Linked DNA regions of Homo sapiens. The protein of the gene in region 1 purifies or fractionates together with the protein of each later gene. This does not show direct contact. Each region holds a gene or a part of one and is shown in the gene's direction. Other genes may lie near its edges. The genes, in order: NOCT, PINX1 and IVNS1ABP.

What was found.
Region 2: the proteins of NOCT (region 1) and PINX1 purify together in Homo sapiens (affinity purification with mass spectrometry; 2 studies listed by BioGRID and IntAct, with this or other methods). This does not show direct contact.
Region 3: the proteins of NOCT (region 1) and IVNS1ABP purify together in Homo sapiens (affinity purification with mass spectrometry; 2 studies listed by BioGRID and IntAct, with this or other methods). This does not show direct contact.

What each region holds. Positions count from the first base shown.
Region 1 is NC_000004.12:139,011,524-139,018,932, forward strand, and holds the start of NOCT (nocturnin), read left to right. Parts: upstream 1-4,257; 5' UTR 4,258-4,458; coding exon 4,459-4,648; intron 4,649-7,409. UniProt on the Homo sapiens protein: Phosphatase which catalyzes the conversion of NADP(+) to NAD(+) and of NADPH to NADH. Shows a small preference for NADPH over NADP(+). Represses translation and promotes degradation of target mRNA molecules.
Region 2 is NC_000008.11:10,766,876-10,773,875, reverse strand, and holds part of PINX1 (PIN2/TERF1-interacting telomerase inhibitor 1), read left to right. Parts: intron 1-965; exon of another isoform or gene 966-3,360; intron 3,361-5,415; exon of another isoform or gene 5,416-5,476; intron 5,477-7,000. UniProt on the Homo sapiens protein: Microtubule-binding protein essential for faithful chromosome segregation. Mediates TRF1 and TERT accumulation in nucleolus and enhances TRF1 binding to telomeres. Inhibits telomerase activity. May inhibit cell proliferation and act as tumor suppressor.
Region 3 is NC_000001.11:185,307,235-185,314,398, reverse strand, and holds part of IVNS1ABP (influenza virus NS1A-binding protein), read left to right. Parts: exon of another isoform or gene 1-1,914; intron 1,915-3,076; 5' UTR 3,077-3,304; intron 3,305-4,887; 5' UTR 4,888-4,905; coding exon 4,906-5,016; intron 5,017-5,226; coding exon 5,227-5,396; intron 5,397-5,523; coding exon 5,524-5,599; intron 5,600-6,736; coding exon 6,737-6,910; intron 6,911-7,164. UniProt on the Homo sapiens protein: Involved in many cell functions, including pre-mRNA splicing, the aryl hydrocarbon receptor (AHR) pathway, F-actin organization and protein ubiquitination.

The sequences.
Region 1 (7,409 bases):
TGGATATCCTCTGTGATACCTTTCCACTTGGTAGTCACTTTGTTCAAAACGCCTCTCCTGACTTCTCTAGGCAATTAGTTATTTCTGTCAGAGGTGTTGGAGCCAGAGCAACTCTATGTTGAATAGAGGCTGAGACCTACTGGGCTGCATTGCCAGGAGGTTAGGGATTCCTAGTCACAGGATGAGATAGGAGGTCAGCACAAGATATAGATCATAAAGACTCAGCGGATGAAACAGGATGTGAAAAAGAAACCAGCCGGCCGGGCGCATTGGCTCAGCAGACGGATCACGAGGCCAGGAGTTCAAGACCAGCCTGGCCAACATGGAGAAACCCAGTCTCTACTAAAAAAAAATACAAATTTAGCCAGGTGTGTTGGACTACTACGCGCCTGTAGTCCTAACTACTCGGGAGGCCAGGAGTTCAAGACCAGCCTGGCCAACATGGAGAAACCCAGTCTCTACTAAAAAAAAATACAAATTTAGCCAGGCGCGTAGGACTACTATGCGCCTGTAGGCCTAACTACTCGGGAGGCTGAGGCAGGAGAATTGCTGGAACCCGGGAGGCGGAGGTTACAGTGAGCCGAGACCGTGCCATTGCACTCCAGCCTGGGTGACAGAGCGAGACTCCATCTCAAAAAAAAAAAGAAACCAGCCAAAACCCACAACAACCAAGATGGTGATGAAGGTGACCTCTAGTTGTTCTCACTGTTTATTGTACGCTAATTATAATGCATTAACATGATAAAAGACACTCCCACCAGTGCCGTGACAGTTTATAAATGGCACAGCAACATCCAGAAGTTACCCTATATAGTCTAAAAGGCAGAGAAATCCTCAGTCCTGGGAAATCCTTGCCCCTTTCCTGGAAAATTCACGAATAACCCTCTCCCTAGTTAGCATGTAATCAAGAAATAGCCATAAAAATAGCCAACAAGGCCGGGCGCAGTGGCTCACGCCTGTAATCCCAGCACTTTGGGAGGCAGGTGGATCACTTGAGATCATGAGTTTGAGACCAGCCTGGCCTACATGGCGAAACCCCATCTCTACTAAAAATAGAAATAAAAAAATTACCTGGGTGAGGTGGCACGCATCTGTAATCCCAGCTACTCTGTGGGCTCAGCAGGAGAATCACTTGAACCTGGGAGGTGGAGGTTGCAGTGAGCCGAGATCGTGCCGTTGCACTCCAGCCTGGGTGACAGAGCGAGACTTCATCTCAATTAAAAAAAAAAAAAAGAAAAAGAAAAAGCCATAAGCAGCCCTCAGTGCTGCTCTGCCTATGGAGTAACCATTCTTTTATTTCTTTACTTCTCTAATAAATTTGGTTTCACTTTATGAGCTCGTCCTGAATTCTTTCTTGTGTAATATTCAAGAACCCTCTTTTGGGGTCTGGATTGGGACCCCTTTCCAGTAACATTTCCTCTTCTCTGGTCCCACAATACTTTGTCCATAAGTGATTCTGTACTTATTAGCAGATAATTACAAGTATTTTTGTTTATACAATGTCTTACCCCCTAAACTGTCAATAGATTTTGTTCAATTTATTTTTGTATGCTCTAATATAGAGCCTGGCACATAATGTGTATTCAACAAATGTTTACTGAATAAATTTTCAAGGGAATAAGTTTTAATTTCTATCTTTCTGATTGCTTAGTGTTTAATATATTATAAAAAATATGATTCAGGCCGAGCGTGGTGGCTCATGCCTGTAATCCCAGCACTTTGGGAGACTGAGGCGAGGGGATCACCTGAGGTCAGGAGTTTGAGACCAGCCTGGACAATATGATGAAACCTTGTCTCTACTAAAAAATACAAAAATTAGCCAGGCGTGGTGGTGTGCGCCTGTAGTCAGAGCTACTCCAGAGGCTGAGGCAGGAGAATGGCTGGAACCCGGGAGGCGGAGGTTGCAGGGAGCCAAGATGACGCCACTGTACTCCAGCCTGGGCAACAGAGCGACAGACTCCATCTCAAATAAATAAATAAAAAAAAAATAAATAATATGATGCACTTTCAGGATAGCATGCTCTTTGAATCTCTTTAAATAGTGACAGTTTATATTTGAACAGTTATTTTTTCATTTTTCAAAGCACTTTTCCCCAACATTTTATTATGAAAATCTCCAAATATATGGGGGAAAAATAATTGTAAGTGAACACTTGTGTCGGGACTCAGAAACTGATAGCCCAAAATATGGGGCTTTGACCGGCTGAATGGAAGCCTCAAGGTCTCTCTGACCTCACTGCCCAGCACCATCTCTCCCAAAGCACAGGATGAAGTTGAAGTTCCTTTATCTGGCTACAATCCGAACCCACCAAAAGGAACAATTGTTTTTTCTTCCCCTCCTTGTAAGACCAAAAATGTAACCACCTGAACAGACCCTTTCACAAGATAATGTGCAAGTTCATCCCTGTGCCCTGATCCATTCACTTTCCCTAGTCATCTCCTCAACAGAATGCCTCTGCTCCCCTCTCCCCAAGTCTGTTGGCCAGGATGGTAGACAAGCTTCTGAACCCCGTTGGGGGTGTGTAATCACTCTGTGATTCTCCCCATGTACATGTTAATAAATGCATATGCCTTTTCTCCCATTAATCTGCCTTTTGTGAGTTGATTTTTCAGCAAACTTCAGAGGGCAAAGGGAACATTTTTCCCATGGTCCCTATACCCATATATACCCACTACCTAGATTCAAAATCAACATTTTGCTATATTTGCAAAACACTTTTCATAGGCTAATTTTATTATCACCTTTTTAAAAAAATTCTTTTTACAAGTACTGCTCCTTGTGGAGCAGGACTACTCGATAGACAGTGTGCCCAGAGTAGCTTATTATCATTTTTTATTTCACCTAATGACTAAGGTATGATTCTATGTTTTATAGATAAGGAAACTGAAACTGAGGCTTTAATGACTTCCAAGGAGCTTGTCTGCCAGAAGTTGTAATCAACTTGTGCCAGCTGATCTGTCCACACCCTCTATCCACAGGTGTTAGATATGTAACCTAGGTCTGAAAAATATTTAGAATATTCTTGTGATGAAAAGCTTGCAATTCCACAACACAGGGGAATCAGCAAAATCATGGGAAAACCAATAGAATACATTTCTAACTCATGAATCATTCAGAGAAAAATCCAGTCTTGGGTTTTCCCTCCCCCTCATCCCATTTCTATTCCTGATTAGTCATCATTTCCTGCCCAGCCTGTCTGAGATGTTTCTTCCATCCTTTCTTTTCCAGTAACAGTAACCTGGTGCGGGTCTACAGTATCTGTTATCTCAGCTGATTTCCTTTCTGCCTTTTCATGAACCAGAGACATGTGATTTCCAATTAAAGCACAGCCCTGACCATGTCTTTGCTCAGCTTACAAAACGTCAACGGCTCGCAGCTATCCACCGAATTAAGCCTACTATAATCCCCTTCCTTCCACACTACAACCTATCCACGCATCTGTCCTCTTACTCCTTAGCTTCCATCTTACATGACTAAGAGTTGTTTCCCCAAATACACCCTTATTTACTTTTTTCATTTATAACTCACCACCACCCCCTCCAAAGTTTCACGTGGGTAAATTCTAGACCTCCACGTCATAGGCCAACTCAAATGCCAATCCTTCTAATGAACCTTCTAGAGAGCCCGGGCCTGTTGTCATCTCTATAGCCAATCTTTGGCATCTTGTGGCAATAATCTCATTCTACCTTGTAGAGCTTTCTGGTCTGACTTCCCTTGCCACCTTCTGCTCCCTTTGCCTAAGTATAACACTTTTGAGGAAAAGAACGCTGTTTTAATCATCGTCGCCTCGCCCACAGGCGGTGCTTTATTGTGCTTAATATCGTTTAACGCATCACACACTGCCGAGGGGGTCGGAGGCGGACGCCTTTTGCTGTATCCACACAGACCCGCGCAGGCACACACGTAGGCCGTCTGCCACTCTGACAGACACGTGTCCCCTGGGCCACAGCCCTGGAACTGTCTCGGGATTCCCAGCCTGTGGGCGCTTCCATGCTGGCCAGCGGAAGGGGACGCTTTTTTCTTCAGAACAGCTCCAACGGATACCTCTTATTTTAGACCGCCTGCGGATTCTATCTATAAATCAGCCTAAGCCCCGCTTCCTTTTAAAACAGGATTACGCCGGGTCGAGGGAGCCTGGCGTGGCCGCGCAGTGGCCGGGTCCCGCGGATTCCCCTCCAGCTCCCGCTTGGTAGCGCCCGCTTTGTCAGCGCGCAGCGCTCGCCGGGCGCCCTGCAGGTCTCGCCAGGTCTCACAGCAGACGGTGCCGACGCAGCGGTGTTGCACCTCCCTCTCCGGCTCTGCTGCCCGGGATTTCCCCAGAACCTGCGCCGCGCGAGAAGGAGCCTGGGAGCATCCGCCCACACTGCCCGGACAGTCGGCTCGACTCGGTGCCCTCGGCCCCAGCCGGGCTCCGCTCCTCGGGCGCGCGAGGGGCCGTGGTGGCGGCGGCGCCCGGCATGTTTCATAGTCCGCGGCGGCTCTGCTCGGCCCTGCTGCAGAGGGACGCGCCCGGCCTGCGCCGCCTGCCCGCCCCAGGGCTGCGCCGCCCGTTGTCCCCGCCGGCTGCTGTTCCCAGGCCCGCATCCCCCCGGCTGCTGGCGGCGGCCTCGGCGGCCTCGGGCGCCGCGAGGTCGTGTTCCCGAACAGGTGAGTGCACCCCAGTTCCGGGCGGAGAACGCCACGGCCGCCAACGCGCGGCCGCCACCTGGAGACCGCGCGGAATGAATGAGAAGCCCGGGGCTGCCGGTCGTGGAGTCTGGCCTGAAAGTGGGTCCTTTACCGGAGCAACCTTCTGCGTTCCCTTTTTCCTCTTTCCCTGTTCCCCGACTTGCCTGGGGCTTGCATCAAAGCTAGTAAGAACTGGGAGACTGTATTCAGGTTCCCGCTTGACCCTTAGAGGCCATGCTTTCAGAATTTCTTGTTCTTGACCGTTAAATTTCCCCCTTCCGAGGCCGCGAGTTACTATGTTGGTTACATTTTTTATTGCACGACTTAACGGAAATTTTTATGGAAAAAAAAATCTAAATGATGCTTATTTGCTTATATAGCTTTCATGGTCTAGATATTAAGTTTTTTTTTTAAGTCGTGATAATAACACATTGATTCGTTTTACGTTGTTTTTTTTTTTTTTTTTTTTTTTTTTTTTTGAGATGGAGTCTCACTGTGTCACCCAGGCTGGAGTCCAGTGGCACGATATCGGCTTACCGCAACCTCCCGCTCCCGGGTTCAAGCGATTCTCCTGCCTCAGCCTCCCGAGTAGCTGGGATTACAGGCGCCAGTCACCACGCCTAGCTAACTTTTGTATATTTAGTAGAGACGGGGGTTTCACCATTTTGGCCAGGCTGGTCTTGAACTCCTGACCTCGTGATCCACCCGCCTCAGCCTCCCAGAGTGCTGGGATCACAGGCGTGAGCCACCGCGCTCGGCCATTTTACGTTTCTTTGGATTTTTTTTTTTTGGAGGCTTCCACTCTTTATAGTTAACATCATTTTTTGTCCTGTGTATCTAAGATCTTGTAAAAGTGAGGCCTTAGTTTCACCAAGAGCTGTTTTCATACATCATAATAACTACCCTGAGTTTTCCTTTTTTGCTACCTCTGTTTCTGCCTGGGCACACATTACCATGGCCACAAATTACATACAAATTAATTATACTTTAAAAATTGATAAATTTTTTCTTTCAAAACTAGGCAATACATAACTTTTTTTTTTTTTTTTTTTGAGACGGAGTTTTGCTCTTATTTCCCAGGCTGGAGTGCAATGGCGCGATCTCGGCTCACCGCAACCTCTGCCTCCCGGGTTCAAGCGATTCTCCTGCCTCAACCTCCCGAGAAGCTGGGATTACAGGCATGCGCCACCGCGCCAGGCTGATTTTTGTATTTTTAGTAGAGATGGGGTTTCTCCATGTTGGTCAGGCTGGCCTCGAACTCCCTAGCTCAGGTGAACCTCCCGCTTTGGCCTCCCAAAGTGCTGGGATTACAGGCGTGAGCCACCGCCCCCCCGGCCTATAAAATTTAAAAAAATAGGCCGGGCGCGGTGGCTCACGCCTGTAATCCAGCACTGTGGGAGGCGGAGGCGGGTAGATCACCCGAGGTCAGGAGTTCGTGACCATCCTGGCCAATGGGCTTGGGCGTGGTGGCACTCGCCTGTAATCCCAGCTACTCTGGAGGCTGAGGCAGGAGAATCACTTGAACCTGGGAGGCGGAGTGTTGCAGTGAGCCGAGATCGCACCATTGCACTCCAGCCTGGGTGACAAGAGTAAAACTCCGTCTCAAAACAAAATTAATAAAAATTTTAAAAAATGTATATATTTTAAAAATGGTCATCTGGAATGTGATTGAAGCCAAGACTTTAAACTATTCGCATTGTTGGCAGATATTTAGGTATTTCCCAATCTAGTATCAAACTCCTGGCCTCGAGTTATCCTCAGACTCTGGAGCAGTTGAGATTTGCAGGTGGAAGCCACCATGCCCAACTTAGTCATTTTAAAATTAGGATGTTGAATTGGTTGCTGGAGATTCTGAACTATATTGTTCCTTAGAGTGAACTTGACAGTTAGATTCCCCACCCCCACCCCCAATTTCGTAGGAATGTGGTACATTGTGAAATAACTGCCAGAATGAGTATATTGCCTGATAACTTTTTTCTTGCTGGAAATTTTAAGAACAACATTGTTAGAGGTTTGAGGTAGGAAAAGTAAAAGAAAACCAGGTGATGTCTTCTGTACCAGCTTATATCTTAAATTCCCTCAAAGTCTCAGAGGCAGGGTTAGTAGGTACCTCCTCATGGGAATACTGTTAGCTTGTGTAAAACATAGATGGCTGTGTTATCTGAGTAATTACTGTTATCTGAGTAATAATATCAGGTCAGATTGGAATGTTGGGCTTTTGACCCAAGAAAGTGTTTAATGAACTTCTTTTAAGAAATCCCCTGAAACCCCCTAGTTTTACAGATAAGGAAATTGAAGGACTTTATGGTACTTAAACTTTTGTAGGCAGTTACTATAAAGTCTAGACAATTTTCCTGTTCATGCATTTTTAGCTTCAGCAGCTTGTTGGAAGAAACATGCCTGCATTGATTCATTCATTGCTTGTTCACTCATTCCAGATCTTTACAGAATGTCTCACACAATGTAGGTGCTTTATTATGGGAGTTAAAAACATGAGCTTTAGTCAGTCCCTAAGGAGTTTACTGCCCAGTAAGAGATGAGATTTGCACAATGAAATGGCTGTTTAATGAAATGAAACACCTTTTATTCTCTTGACTTGGAAATGGCACAAGGGTGCAGGAAAGCAGGAAGTCCCTTTTGGGCTTCTAGAAATGGGTGGCATTTCAGCTGGCTCTTGAAGCATGGTTAGGATTGGAAGAGATTACTATAAAGCGTTTTGTTTGGAAAAAGCAGGAGTAAA
Region 2 (7,000 bases), on another chromosome or scaffold:
TTCCGAGCCTGAGGGCCTTTCAGGGAGGCAGGAAGCCTGCTCCTCTTTCTCTTTCCTCTTTTTCCACAGAGGCTGGATGACTCTTGTCAGTGATCCTGATGTTGATTACTTGAGAAGCTGTTGCCATAGAGAACCATCCTTTTAAAACATGTTTATGTCGGCTTTTCCTAATAAGTGGCAATCGGAATAGCTGGTTAGGCATATGGGAAAAAATAAAAATAAAAAGACATAAAATTAACAGCTCTGTTACCATTGGCCTTCATATGAGGAATTTGGCATTCTGTGTATTTCTCTACTAAAGTCCAGCCAAGCTATTCTGTCCCTTCTAGTTCGTATTATCTTCTCCAATGTCCGGTGTGTCTGAGTTTGTAACTTCCAAGCGGAGTTCTGATGCCTGATATTAGAAAGGTATCTCTGCATACTTACTGGGTTGCTGAGAGTGCTCTTTGATGTCACATCACTTTTTAAACAAATTTTTTCTTTACTGGCTTTTGCTACTCAAAAGCAGGCAGCAGTTAGCAGCCTCTCTGCTGCTTGCTGACACAGTTCAGAAAGGTAGGCATTCTGTCGTTGGCAGGAGACAGAGCTTGAGGACTTTGTCAAAGCCCAGCGTCCTCCAGTTCCATACGTGTATATATGTACATGTGTGTATATAAAGGTATATTGTGTGTGTGCACTGGAAAAGCACCTGCCACTTCCAAAAGTCAGCCGTATTGTATTCACAGTCACAGAGCCGATTTTATAATACATTTATTCAGTAAATATTTACTTAGCACCTATTGTATGTACTTGTATAATGAGAAAGAAAACAAATTTTTACAAGATTTTTACTGAGGAAATTCAAAACTTTAAGGACACTGGTATTTGAAATTCATGTAATTTTTACATGTCATAAAATAGTTTTTTGTTTCCTCCTAACCATTTAGAAATGGTAAAAAAAAAAAAAAATCATTAAAAACTAGGCCCACGGCCATAGTTCACCAGTCTCTGTTCTAGAGAGAACCCTCTGGAACCCCTGCAGAGTGGGCTTCTAATACATGCCACAGGTTCTTACACCTGTTTCACATGTGCACGCACACACAATTTCTGTGTTTTCCAATTGAGTTGCTGCATAATTCTCATTCTGTTATTGTATCTTTGCTTTTTAATACCACTTCAAATCACAACTCTCTTCAGTCAATGGGGTTTTATATTTGTTTTTGACTCTTGTGATACTTGCTAATGCTAAAACTGATTGTGTCTCCCAGGCAAATTCCCCGAGGCTGCTCATTGCCGAGACTTGGTGCGTTTAGCCTAATTCCAGATGTGAGCGATGAATGTCTTGAAAAATGTACAAGATTTCACACTTGAAAAGCTTTTTGTGAGTGTAAAAATAGCTGTTCATCAATAAAACACTGGGTGTTTTCAGTTACATGGAAACCACGAAGGAAAAGCATGAAACCACAGAGGTTCCATAGAGAGAAGAGCAGGGCCGCCCGCCATAGTGGCTCAGGGCAGGCTTTCCAACGAACGGCCGTGAATCACTGCCTAGCTCAGCCTTCAGTGGCAAACCCATTTCAATGACTCCCTAGAATCAGCTTGCCCAGGTTGTTTTCAGCTAAGATATAATGTAGGCTGTGCCTTCACAGCTTGCTACCAGAGGCTGCTGGTGGAACTTCCATCCCACTGCTGTTCTCCAAATGAGCTGCTTACCTTTGTATGTGGTATGCACGAGAACTCTCTTCTCTTTACCAAGAACAGTTCTCTTCTTTAGCAAGAACAGTTCAGTCTCTACTGGCATTGCTTGTGTTCAACTAATCCCACAAAAAGAACGTGGCAGTTCCCATACCACACAGTACCTTGCTTTTTTCCAATTGACTTGTCCCCTCCAAGGCAACTGTGGTAACATGTGGAATGACAGAGCAGAAGGAGAAATGGATGGATCACTGGACTGAGTTTCTATTTATTGCTAAGGGCCAGGAAGGAACTGGCTGACAGCAGACGACACTCAGATGTACTCTGCAGTAGTTAGAGAAGCAGTTTGCATCACGAGGCAAGGGAAGGTGCTATCTGATGAGAAGGGGGTGGTTTCATGTGGATGGGAGGAATCTGCACTCAAAATGCTGATTCTCTTCTTACCCTCCCACACCCCTTCTGGACATTAGACCTGCCTGATGTGCAGACAAGTTCGTACTGACAAACACAAAGCATTTGGGGCCAGTGGGTGGTGGTGGGAGCTCTTCACAGCCTTGGTCCAGCTGGGTTTGGTGTCTTTGTGCCTTTGTTGAGCACTTACTGTACCTTGTTCCTCATTAGGGAGGTTGTGGATTGTATGAATACAAATGCAACATAAATGGCCCCTGTCCTCAAGAAACTTGTTTCCTTGGGAAGATGCTAGCAAAGCAAATTAAACAAATACAGAAAATAGAAGCAACAAGTTGCTATTATGGGGAATAAACAAGAAAGGATGTTCACTTGGGATTGGACTTGTGGAAGGAAGCAGTCACACACTTGATCTTCAAGAAAGTGATGCACGGGACTGTGTACAGGGGATGTGGAAGAACATCGTAGGCCAGCATAGGGAGTGACTGGGTCAGTTCATCCTGCCCCTTCTGTTGGAGGAGTTTAAAGTACACACACAGCTGACGGTGGGGTCTCCACAATCCCTTTGTTTTGAGGAGTCACACACAGTCACTTCATACCTGAAGGGATACATGAAGACATAATTTGTGTTTGTCAGAACTGCCCCACTGAAAAGTTTGGAAAAGGTACAGAATGTTCTGTCAAACCACTCACTTGCCAAGCTTTCTTAACTTTTCACAGACTAACCCAGCACAGGCTGATGACAGACAGGCTGTGGTGGCAGTGAGCATTTGTTCATCACAGGCAATAGCCATCAGGGCTCACAACCCCAGTTGCTAAATACATTACCCTTGATCTCTGGGAGTCTACTTTGTTAACAAAGTTCATTGAAGGATTACTGTTGCAGCATGACCTCCGTGTCTTAATGTGGAAATAAGAAAGCTTCCATCATCCTGTCACTTAAGATCAGTAGTGATGTATGAGCAAGGCTGGCGAGCTGAAAGACTTGCCTTTGAAGCCCATTTCCTGGACTGGCATGTTGATCATAAGTAGGGGGATTCTGTAGTAAGGTGCATCTGCTTCTGGCACTTCACTAAGGTCTCTGTGCAAACTGCTTCATTTCCTTGCCCCAAAAGATTCTTTTGAGAATAATGGAGAATCCTCTCTATTTGGGCATTGTACTAATAATCCATCTCAGTATACATGTTTGAATGACACAAGAGCAAAGTCCTCCATGAGCCCAGAGGATCTTGCGCAGATACTCACTCATGTAGCTGCAGAGTCTCCAGATGGAGGATCCTAAAAGAAGCAGAACAGACTTTAATTCTGTAGACATCCGAGAAGAGTTGATACATGTAGCTTCAGGCATCTTTCAGGGACCGGAGAGGACTGTGGTGTATTGTAATTGATACCCGCAGGGACTCTCTGCAGGGTCAGCTTGCCTTTGTGCCCACTCTTTGTTTTCTCCTCAGTGATAATTCGGAATTGCCAGAGATGGCGTTAAGATTCTCCAGCTCTAATCGTGACACACAGTGTACGCCCATGAACCACCTGAATTGACCTGTTGCTGATGAGGAAACTGAGTCAGAGAACCACAGCAGCCACCTTTCCATATTGGCAGTGTCCAGGTGGAAGCTGTCCAGCATCTGCCCAAGAGGGCTTCTTGCCTGGGTGGAAGGTTTGGACTTGGGTTTTACTCTGTGCTTTAAAACAGTCAAACTTTTTCAAGTGAATGTACATGCTAGTTTGATAAATTATAAAACTCTTTTAAGCCTGGCTTCAGGCTGTTTTTTATTTATATGAATTGCAAACCAAAATGATGTAGTTTTTTTCTCTTTTGAAAGTACTATTTCTGTGGATATTTTTTCTGCATCAGTCAACTTAGGTGAGTGTAGACCTTAGTCTCTGGATTATGTGGTCAATTGATACATACTTTAGTTTTGGGGTGGCTTCTGAAGAGAGAGGAAAGGTGACAAGGCAGTCCATGAGGTGGGAGCTAGGAGTCGGGGTCCTGTGGTACAGGGAGCAAGGGCTTTGCACCTGGCAGCCTTAGGGCTGTCTCTCTCCTGCTGTGTTCCAGCTGTGAGACCTTCTGCGGATTAAGTGCTAGGAGTCTCACTCTCTGCCTGTGTGATGTGGAGAGGACGCCTCTCCTCAGGTTGCAGCAAGAGTTGGCTGAGATGCCACTTGATGTCAAGTGCCTGGCACGGTGGTGATAGCTGCCTTCCTCAGGACACCCAGGCCTGATCACTTTGGGTGAAGCTTCCTCAAATGATTGAGCAGGGTGATCCCATGGGCCTGGCTTTAAACTCTCAGGGCTCTGTGAACTGGGGAACAGGTGCTCCAGAGTCATCTCAGTTCAAAGCCACAAGTACTTATTGATTGGGTAGAAATTAAGGCCCACTTACCATTTGGGAAAGTCAGTCATCAAATGTTTTTGACACATGTGATGCACTCATTAGCGCTGAAGGAAGGGAGAGGACTGTGAGGCTTGCTGTGAACAGACTAGGCCAGTCCTGCTTATTTTATTAGGTTGGTGCAAAAGTAATCACGGTTTTTGCCATTAGTGGCAAAAACCTCCTTTAGCTGAACAGCAAGCATTGGAATTTGAAAAAGAGAGAGAGACATTTCCCGAATCCCTGAGCTTAAATCACATTTGGCAAGATGATTAACCATATTTCTTGGTAGTATTTTATATGGAACCAGAAGTTTTCAAGTTACTCTTAAATTTGTTTCATTAGGTTTTGGCACACAGTTAGCAAACAGACATTCTCAACGTTTATGAAGCAGTGAATGTCGCATTTAAATTTTTTTTTATTTTATTTTTTGAGGTGTATTGTGTGTTTAATGGAAATGTGGGAAAATGCAAGTTATTGTCATTTCAAAATGCTTAAAAGTAACTTGTTTTCTCAATACTTGTTTACTTTGATAGAGACCAGATGTAAAAGCATTAGTTTTCTTGAAAAGATGTATCTATTTTTATGTGATGCCATGGTCAAGAATGCAGAAGCAGGATTAGAATCTCTGCAGTGAAACTGAGTCTCCGACTTTGGTGTATAAAAGATGAGTCCTGGCCATTGCTCCTGCAGGAGTCAGATTTTCAATGTATTTTTCCTTTGAGTCCATGGTCTTGTAAAATAGGCACGTTTCTGTGATGTGGGAGGGTGGCTACCCCCGCATTAAGCAGCTCTCTCTAGCCAGTCATTGTGTGGCCAGCACTTTGCTGGGAAGAAGTAGGACTTGGGTGCTGGCCCCTCTCTAGCCTGTCTCCATGCCCTGCCAAGCCTGTGCAGTGACCCGTGCCTATTAAACTTACATCCCAGAAGTTGATGATGAGCATATGAGCATACTTACTTTCTGGAGTTACGAAGACCCGCTGAATTCAACAAGTGACTCAAAAATGGTCTTGTATTTCCTGATAATAAAAAATGTGATTAATACCAGCAATTAGTTCCGGTGATTAAAATCAGGAATTCACAAGGTAATAAATAGATGAGCAAGGTAAGGAGTCATAGGATTCGACTCAGATCTGAGTTCCAGCCTCAAAAATACATTCCAAAAGAGTGGCCCACAGACTGCAGGCTCCTGTAGTGCTGCGAAACTGTCAGTGAGACTTCTGTTGCATAAACGAGCCAGCCGTCGTCACCGAGTCTGTCTCTGTGTGGCTGTGAGGGTGCCTGGTCACCGAGCCTGTCTCTGTGTGGCTGTGAGGGTGTCTGGTCACCGAGCCTGTCTCTTTGTGGCTGTGAGGGTGCCTGGTCACCGAGCCTGTCTCTGTGTGGCTGTGAGGGTGCCTGGTCACCGAGCCTGTCTCTGTGTGGCTGTGAGGGTGCCTGGTCACCGAGCCTGTCTCTGTGTGGCTGTGAGGGTGCCTGGTCACCGAGCCTGTCTCTGTGTGGCTGTGAGGGTGCCTGGTCACCGAGCCTGTCTCTGTGTGGCTGAGGGTGCCTGGTCACCGAGCCTGTCTCTGTGTGGCTGTGAGGGTGCCTGGTCACCGAGCCTGTCTCTGTGTGGCTGTGAGGGTGCCTGGTCACCGAGCCTGTCTCTGTGTGGCTGTGAGGGTGCCTGGTCACCGAGCCTGTCTCTGTGGCTGTGAGGGTGCCCGTCTTTGGGAGGCAGGATCTTTCTTGTTCATGAGCCTGGGATTGGCTCGTGCCGGGAGAGCCTTGAGAAGATCCTTCACTCTGCTGTGCAGCATTTCAGCTCTTTTTCAACATTTGAAGAACAAAAAGACAAATCTCCTGAGGCAGATTTTTTTTATTTTTCTCAAAATCACCCTATGGAATTCCAGCACAAATTGAATAGTAATAGATAAAATTAAAACTGCTTCCCAAAACTCAGTTGATTTATTCTTCATGTTCTGCCTATTTTGAAATTCCAGAATTGACCACATGATTTTTTTTTTTAATGTACCCCTTGGTGAAAGCTGTCTGAGGCACTTGCCACTGAAGGCCCAATTGTCCATTGATACATATTAATATCGATTCTGCTGGAACTGCAACTGGGACATTATCTTGGATTCCACTGAGGTGGCTTTTGAGGACCACTGTGTCGAGACAATACAGGGTCTGTTTATAGGTGGTTTGTAATTCAGTTACCTGCACAAGCAGAACCTTGCCAGCCAAGTTTAGGATCATTAGTAGAATCCTGATTTGGAGATTTCTTTATTCAGGAGCCGTTTCCCACCCTCCCATCATGAAAGCGTAGAACACCCAGCCTCTTCTTGTGAGATAAATGAGTATGAAGGAAGAAGTTGGGTGACTATGAAAACCTAAGTTTAGCATGATTGCTTAATGACTTATTTCCAGAGTCTCTGTGGGCAGAGTTGCTGCAGACATTGATTTGACTCCGAGCATATTCCTTATAGTCTTCAACCCGAAAGCACTTCCTGCCTCACAGGCACTCCTCCTCACCTTACTGCCAGCCTCAGCCCAAATGG
Region 3 (7,164 bases), on another chromosome or scaffold:
GCCTGTGAAGTGTTCCAGGCTAGAGAACTGAGTTAACTTCTATTGTGTTATGATATGAGCATTCCATTTCAGTTTGTGCCTTCCATATGTTTGGTGCTACATATGTTTGTGTTGTAGTGAAAGAATTACAAAACTATGAGCATGGATAGAATGAATGAGTTCAGCGAGTTTTCATATACATGGATGGTGATGGTGGTTTTAGAGGTTACTTTGGAAAGCTGTAACTTCTGGTTTTAAAAAGATGTGTTGATTTACTTTGTATTATAAAGTCTTTCCTTTAAAAATGCAGCTGATGGCTACTTGGTGGGAGCTGACTGCCCTCAAACGATTGTCTTTTGTTTTATCTTGGTCTTACTGAAGGCCAGAGAAAAATTTTAGCAGAGGCCATATTGTGCCTACCTTTTTAACAACTCTTTGATAAGACCTGTTGAATTGTATTTCACTTAAGCTAATCTTTCCGGGCTGTGAACTTCTGGGTGTTATTAAAGCAGTTTAATTACTCATTTATGAGTCTTCGGTATCCCTTGCAGTGGCCATAGAAGTATGCTGAATTTATCTGAATATATTGTATTTGATCCTAGTTTTAATTTTAAATGTGTAAGAAAAGTGACCTAGGTGTAGATTTAGTTGAAAGTGTATTTTAAACACCAAACAATTCTACGTTTCATACTCTTATATGACTCTGGGATGTCTGGACTTTTGGTTTGGATTTTCAAAGAAAACAATTTTCCCCATTTTTTAATTCCACTAGTTATCGTGCTTGAGTTTTATAGACCAAATAAGATCTCCCGTCAATTTGGGGAGTAGTTTAAAACTCTTGATTTGCCCTAGCTCACTTTAATGAAAGTAAATAGGAACTTTCAAAAACATGGTTTTACAGACAGGAATTGATCTGATCCCCTCCAAACTTGAGGTGGGCGGGAAGTAGGTATATAGTGTATGAGGACAATAATTGAATAAAGTAAGTTTGCATTAACTTAAATGTCATCTAGATTTGGGCTGGCTTTTAAAATCAAGTAGCTTTGTACTCTGATCAGTAGATATTAAAGAGATGAGGTTCATATTATGACCTTGATGTACTAAAAATCAGGTACTGTCATGGAATTAGAGTAAAAACTAAATAAAAATCAAGCACTAAATACAGGATTCATTTTACTGCAAAACTCATAATAATATTGTACAAATTTGTCTGATGCAAATTGCCCCAAAAATTCTCCAGTGTTTTCTCCAAGGGCTGCAGTAATTTTAACCATTTTTTTCCAAAATAAATTTTAGGTAGATCATTCAATTTGTCAAATATAGTAAGTGGATACCATTTTTATTTTTTGTTAGATCAAGTTTACAAGTAAAAAGTGAGTAAAACTGGTCAAAGTTTAAAATAGTACCTTCATATTATAATGTTTTTGGCTTTTCAGAGGATGCATTTTAATATAACAATTTGCATGGGGACTCCTTCCTCTTATTTTAAGAGCAGCTTATGAAACTGAAGTTAGGAGTTGCCAACTATGCCTGTGAATTGACCATGCCAGTATAAATCATATATATATGAAAATTTTCTTAGTTTGAGCCAGGTCTTGGCTGAAAATGTTTGAAGGTTTCTTTAGGATAGTGTGTTCTCTCTGTGTAGAAAGAATTATGTATATTTGGAAAACATTTGTTAGAACTAGTTTCTTAGAGAAAAGCCAAATTAACTAACCTAGATAAAAGGTAGAGCAGAGGAAATCAATATTACCTAATGCTGTGATATAGTTTTGATGCAAGGGTAAGCATTCACAACAATCCCAACCCGAATTGGCATTATTGGGTTTCCTTGAAATGAAACCTGTTACAGAGAGACCTGTTAGGACACATGTTGAACTAAACATAGTAGGTTTGTTGAATTCGAACTGGACCAGCCTGCAGTGGAGTCCTGTGGTAAGTGATTATTCACTTTGACGTAATTGTTAGATTTAGAATTGTTGTATTGATGTATAAGGCAAATAATCTTAAGATATCCATAAAAATGAATATATTTGCACGTATTTCAGGTAAGTTATTCCTTAGTTCTGGTTTCCAGAGTTAATAGTGGTGTAATAGCAGTTCAGGTGATTACAAAATAAGTACCATCAGAATTTGACACTAGTAATTGATGATGTGAAAATGAGGGAGGGAGAATAGGTAGGAGGACTGATTACCTTGAAGATTAGGTTTGAACCAGAATGATTCCATTGGTAGTTTATTACTGTGTATGAGAAAAATGATTATACAAAGCACAGGCATCAGTATTTTCCCTTCTGTTTAGTTTATTCCAACAAATTACTCATCTTTATGTTCAAGTTTTTAGGCTAGTCCTGGTAGAGAGGAGATGGGATGGATACAAAAGATGAACAAGACAGAAGGTTTGCCCATGAGTCAAGGAAGATAAACAAGTATATATAAATACAGCATGAATATAAATACAGCATGAAACAGACCAGCTGGAAGATCATAAATACCCCTCAGATAGGGTTCTAAATGTGGAGGATGAGGAGAAACTGCTTCCCAACTGGGAGCATTTGGCAGAGGCTCTATGGCTGTAAGATTTCCTCTGGCAGAGGTTGGGTTAAGGGCCTTCCAGGTAGAGAGAAGAACTTGAACAAAGTTAACAGAGCCTGGGAAGTGCAGAGTTCATTTTGAGGAACAGTAACATAGTATATATGCTTGGGAATAATGCCTAAGGTTGCTTGCTGGCTCAAAACAGATCTCATGTTTGCATATTAGTTGGAAATTAATAATAAAGAATATTAGAATTAAACAGTATTGACATTTGTTTTGTAGTCTTGTGCTTTTATACCTCTCATAAACATAGGTCATTAGCCCCTGCCCTTTGGGAAAGGACTTTTTTTTTTTTTTTTAATCACTTGGGTTGTTGCAAGTTAAATGAAAAATGTTTATGTGGAATTGCATTTGTGTTCTTTTTTTATGTAATGGGAATATTTTTGCCATTTATGTCAAATCTCTTGAAGATCAGGACTTGTTTTACATGATCTGCTCTACCTAGATCAATGACAGTCTTTGATTATTCTGAATATCTAACTTAAATTTATCATTGTTATAGATTATGATGCATCATTATCACAGAAGAAATTCGTGTCTATAGCTTTTAAGGACTTGATTACATCATTTTCAAGCCTGATAGTTTTGGAATCACCATTAGAGCTTAAGACACACCTGCCTTCATTTCAACCACCTGTCTTCATACCCTGACGAAGTGCACCTTTTAACACTCCTTTGTCCTTGGATTACTTAAGAGTTCCCAGAAATACATTTGCCACCAACAGAGTAGGTAAGTGAATGTTCTCTGCCTAGTCCAGTATTAAGACACATTGTTTTTCTGAAGACGGATGTCGAGTACAGTAAACCTTTCATACTCTTTTTTTAAAGGCAGAGAAGTCAGTAATCATTTGAGTATAAAAAACATCATATTTTTCTTTTCTATATTTTGACTTTAAATAAATCAGTAACTTCAAATTAAAATTTCTTACTGCCTTTTTTTTTTTCCTTAAAGAGATAAGATCTCTGTTGTCCAGGCTGGAGTGCAGTGGTGGGATCATAGCTCACTGCAGCCTGGAACTCCTGGGCTCAAGTGCTTCTCCTGCCTCAGCCTTCCTAGTAACTGGGACTACAGGTGTGCGCCACCACCATGACTGCCTAATTTTTACATTTTTTGTAGAGACAGGATTTCACTATGTTTCCCAGACTGGTCTCAAACTCCTGGGCTCAAGCAATCTTCTTGCCTTGGCCTCCCTATTACTGTTCTTTATTTTATTTTATTTTTTTAAGATGGAGTCTCTCTGTTGCCCAGGCTGGAGTACAGTGGCACAATCTCAGCTGACTGCAACCTTTGCCTCCCAAGCAATTCTCCTGCCTCAGCCCCCACAAGTAGCTGGGATTACAGGCGCCCGCCACCATGCCTGGCTAAATTTTGTATTTTTAGTAGAGATAGGGTTTCACCATGTTGGCCAGGCTGGTCTTGAACTCCTGACCTCAAATGATCCACCTGTCTCGGCCTCCCAAAGTGCTGGGATTACAGGTGTGAGCCATAGCGCCCAGCCTATCACTGTTTTTTAATTATGCATTTTGTGTAGTCATTAGTCAGTTGTTTATAAGTAATGGTAAAATGCAAAAAAGTTGTAAGTTCCCATTTATATTTATATAATCTGATGAGATAAGTGATTTAGAATATATGAAAGAAAGGAACAGAATATAAGTTCATCTTTTTAAATCACTGTATATGTTTCAAAACATTTATAAAAATAATTTCGTAGATACAGTGACAAGACTAATCAGACTTTTTAAGTTTGTGTACTAGGCAAGGGAGGAAGACATTAGGCAATTTTCTGCATATAAATCTTGATTATATATAATTTTGAAGACTAGAAGCAAATTGGGGGCCCTTTAAGACAACTGAAAAAGGCTAGGATTAGGATAAGTAACAGTTTTTCTCATTTGTGGGTAAAGGAATGACAGGAGCCCAAATCCAAGGAAACCTATATGTACTGGCTATTTCACCCTTTCAGGCTTTTAGATTACTTATTATATGGGTTTGGGCAGGATGGAGTTTCGTTTCCTTCCCTTCCCTTCCCTTCAGAATGAATTTGCTTAATGGGCATGGGAACCTGGCCAAAATTGTCGAGATAGCTGCTACTGTTTGAATCCTTTAAAAGTCTTATGACCAAAGTATTAGGGAACAAAGACTTGGACATTCAACACAGGTGTTGTTTCAGCTAAGTTTTTGTGTGATGAAATTTTTATGTGTTGTTTATAGGATGGAATTTGAGAATAAAGAGACTGTATTACTCTTTAGCATTATATTTTTAAAACCATCAGTTGCAAGTAAAATAACTCAGCTTTCTTTTCATCATCTAGCCAAATTTATAAGGAAAAATGATTCCCAATGGATATTTGATGTTTGAGGATGAAAATTTTATTGAGTCTTCTGTTGCCAAATTAAATGCCCTGAGGAAAAGTGGCCAGTTCTGTGATGTTCGACTTCAGGTATTTAAAACTTAATTCAAAATTTATAGAATTTTTTATTACTAAAAGCCATAAGTTCTTAGATTTGCTTATTTCTTTTTCATAGGCATTTAATGAAATGATTTTTTAAAAGAATACTGAGAAATGTAAGATAAAGGAATCTGATATAGTAATTAGCTAGAGAAGCACATAATCCACAATACTTATAATTATAATTCTTCATAATTTCAGGTCTGTGGCCATGAAATGTTAGCACACAGAGCAGTGCTAGCTTGCTGCAGTCCCTATTTATTTGAAATCTTTAATAGTGATAGTGATCCTCATGGAATTTCTCACGTTAAATTTGATGATCTCAATCCAGAAGCTGTTGAAGTCTTGTTGAATTATGCCTACACTGCTCAGTAAGTACATTTGAAGTAAACCATATAATTAGGGAATATCTTCAGAAAATTCCAAGTCTTGCTACATATATTTAAATTAAGTGTGTTTTAAGGCTTTGGTATCATAAGTAACTTTTTTTTTAAATAGGTTGAAAGCAGATAAGGAATTGGTAAAAGATGTTTATTCTGCAGCAAAAAAGCTGAAGATGGATCGAGTAAAGCAGGTAGAGTATCAGAAGTAAATAAAATCATTTATGGAGTCTTATTTTGTGTGATTGCAATGCTGAATTTGTCATAAAACATCTTGTTAGTTTCAAGGACTTGAACATGTCCCTTTTTTCCCTCAGAGTAGTCAATATGTTATTTTAACTGTTTGGCTATAATAATGTAGCAAGATCACACTTCTTCTCAGATAATTTGGGCTGAAGTCTGACCCTTTCAGCAATCTTCTCTGGTAGGGTGGCTATGTCAGCCTTTGATAGCATGAATTAAAATTAATATTTTTCTTAAGAGTTAATCACATAACTTATATCCTCAATTCTGTGTTCTCCTAAACTTCCTGTGCTCTCTAAAAGTATTCCTTCTAGAATTTAATGCCAGTAAAAAGTACTTTTGGAAAACAGGCATTTAATCCCCTAATGCATGGGGGTCAGTAAACTTAAGGCCTACTGGCCAGCTGCCTATTTTTATAAAGTTTTATTCAAACACAGCCATGTGTGTTCATTTACATATGGTCTACACTGCTTTCCAGCTACAGTGACGGAATTGAGCAGTTGTGACAAACAGAATGGCCTACAAGCCTAAAATGCTTTTACTATCTGGCCCTTTAAGAAAAAGTTTGATTTGCTAGCCCTTCTTCTAATACCACTCCTTTGTTCAAAAATCCTTCCTTAATTTACAGTACATATCCCTGCATTTAGTTTCTAGATTTTCCCTTATATAGTTGCTGTCTTTCCAAAACTATTTCCTAGTTATCTTTTCTCCAACCAAATTAAATTGTTTGCAGCATCTTCTCTACTTCTGTCTGCATTCAACATCAACATCATCTCTCCTGTAGAGCCCAGTTCAGATACTGCGTTTCATGAAGCCTTACCAAATTATTCTACTTGAAAATACTTATGTGAACTTACATAGCATTTCAATTTGTTGTACCTCTCCTTAAACTAAAACTTACATATCTGTATGGCATAATTAGATGTTTATCATTTGTATACGTGTTATTACCACTATTAACATTTGTTGTATTAAGACAGTGATTTTTGATTCTTTGTATCTTCACATAGTCTTTACCACACTGAACATTAAATATTTGTTGAATAAAAGATATGTAAGTGTTGGCACTCATATATTTCTTTTCCAAGGTTTGTGGTGATTATTTACTGTCTAGAATGGATGTTACCAGCTGCATCTCTTACCGAAATTTTGCAAGTTGTATGGGAGACTCCCGTTTGTTGAATAAGGTTGATGCTTATATTCAGGAGCATTTGTTACAAATTTCTGAAGAGGAGGAGTTTCTTAAGCTTCCAAGGCTAAAGGTAAGGAGTAAAGTCTATAAACAGATATATACTATCTAGTTCCAGGCGTGGAATCTTGGTCTGTGTTTCAAGCAAGTGAGTAATGATTATGAAATAATACATTGAAATTATATTGTTATTCTTAGCAGCGTAATGGGTTTCTCCCTACCAGTTTGTTTACTTTGTTTTTGATTCAGTAATCAAATTCCTTACAAATTCCTGGTTCCTTACAAATTCCTGGTTCCTTACAAATTAGAGTAAATGTATGGAATGAA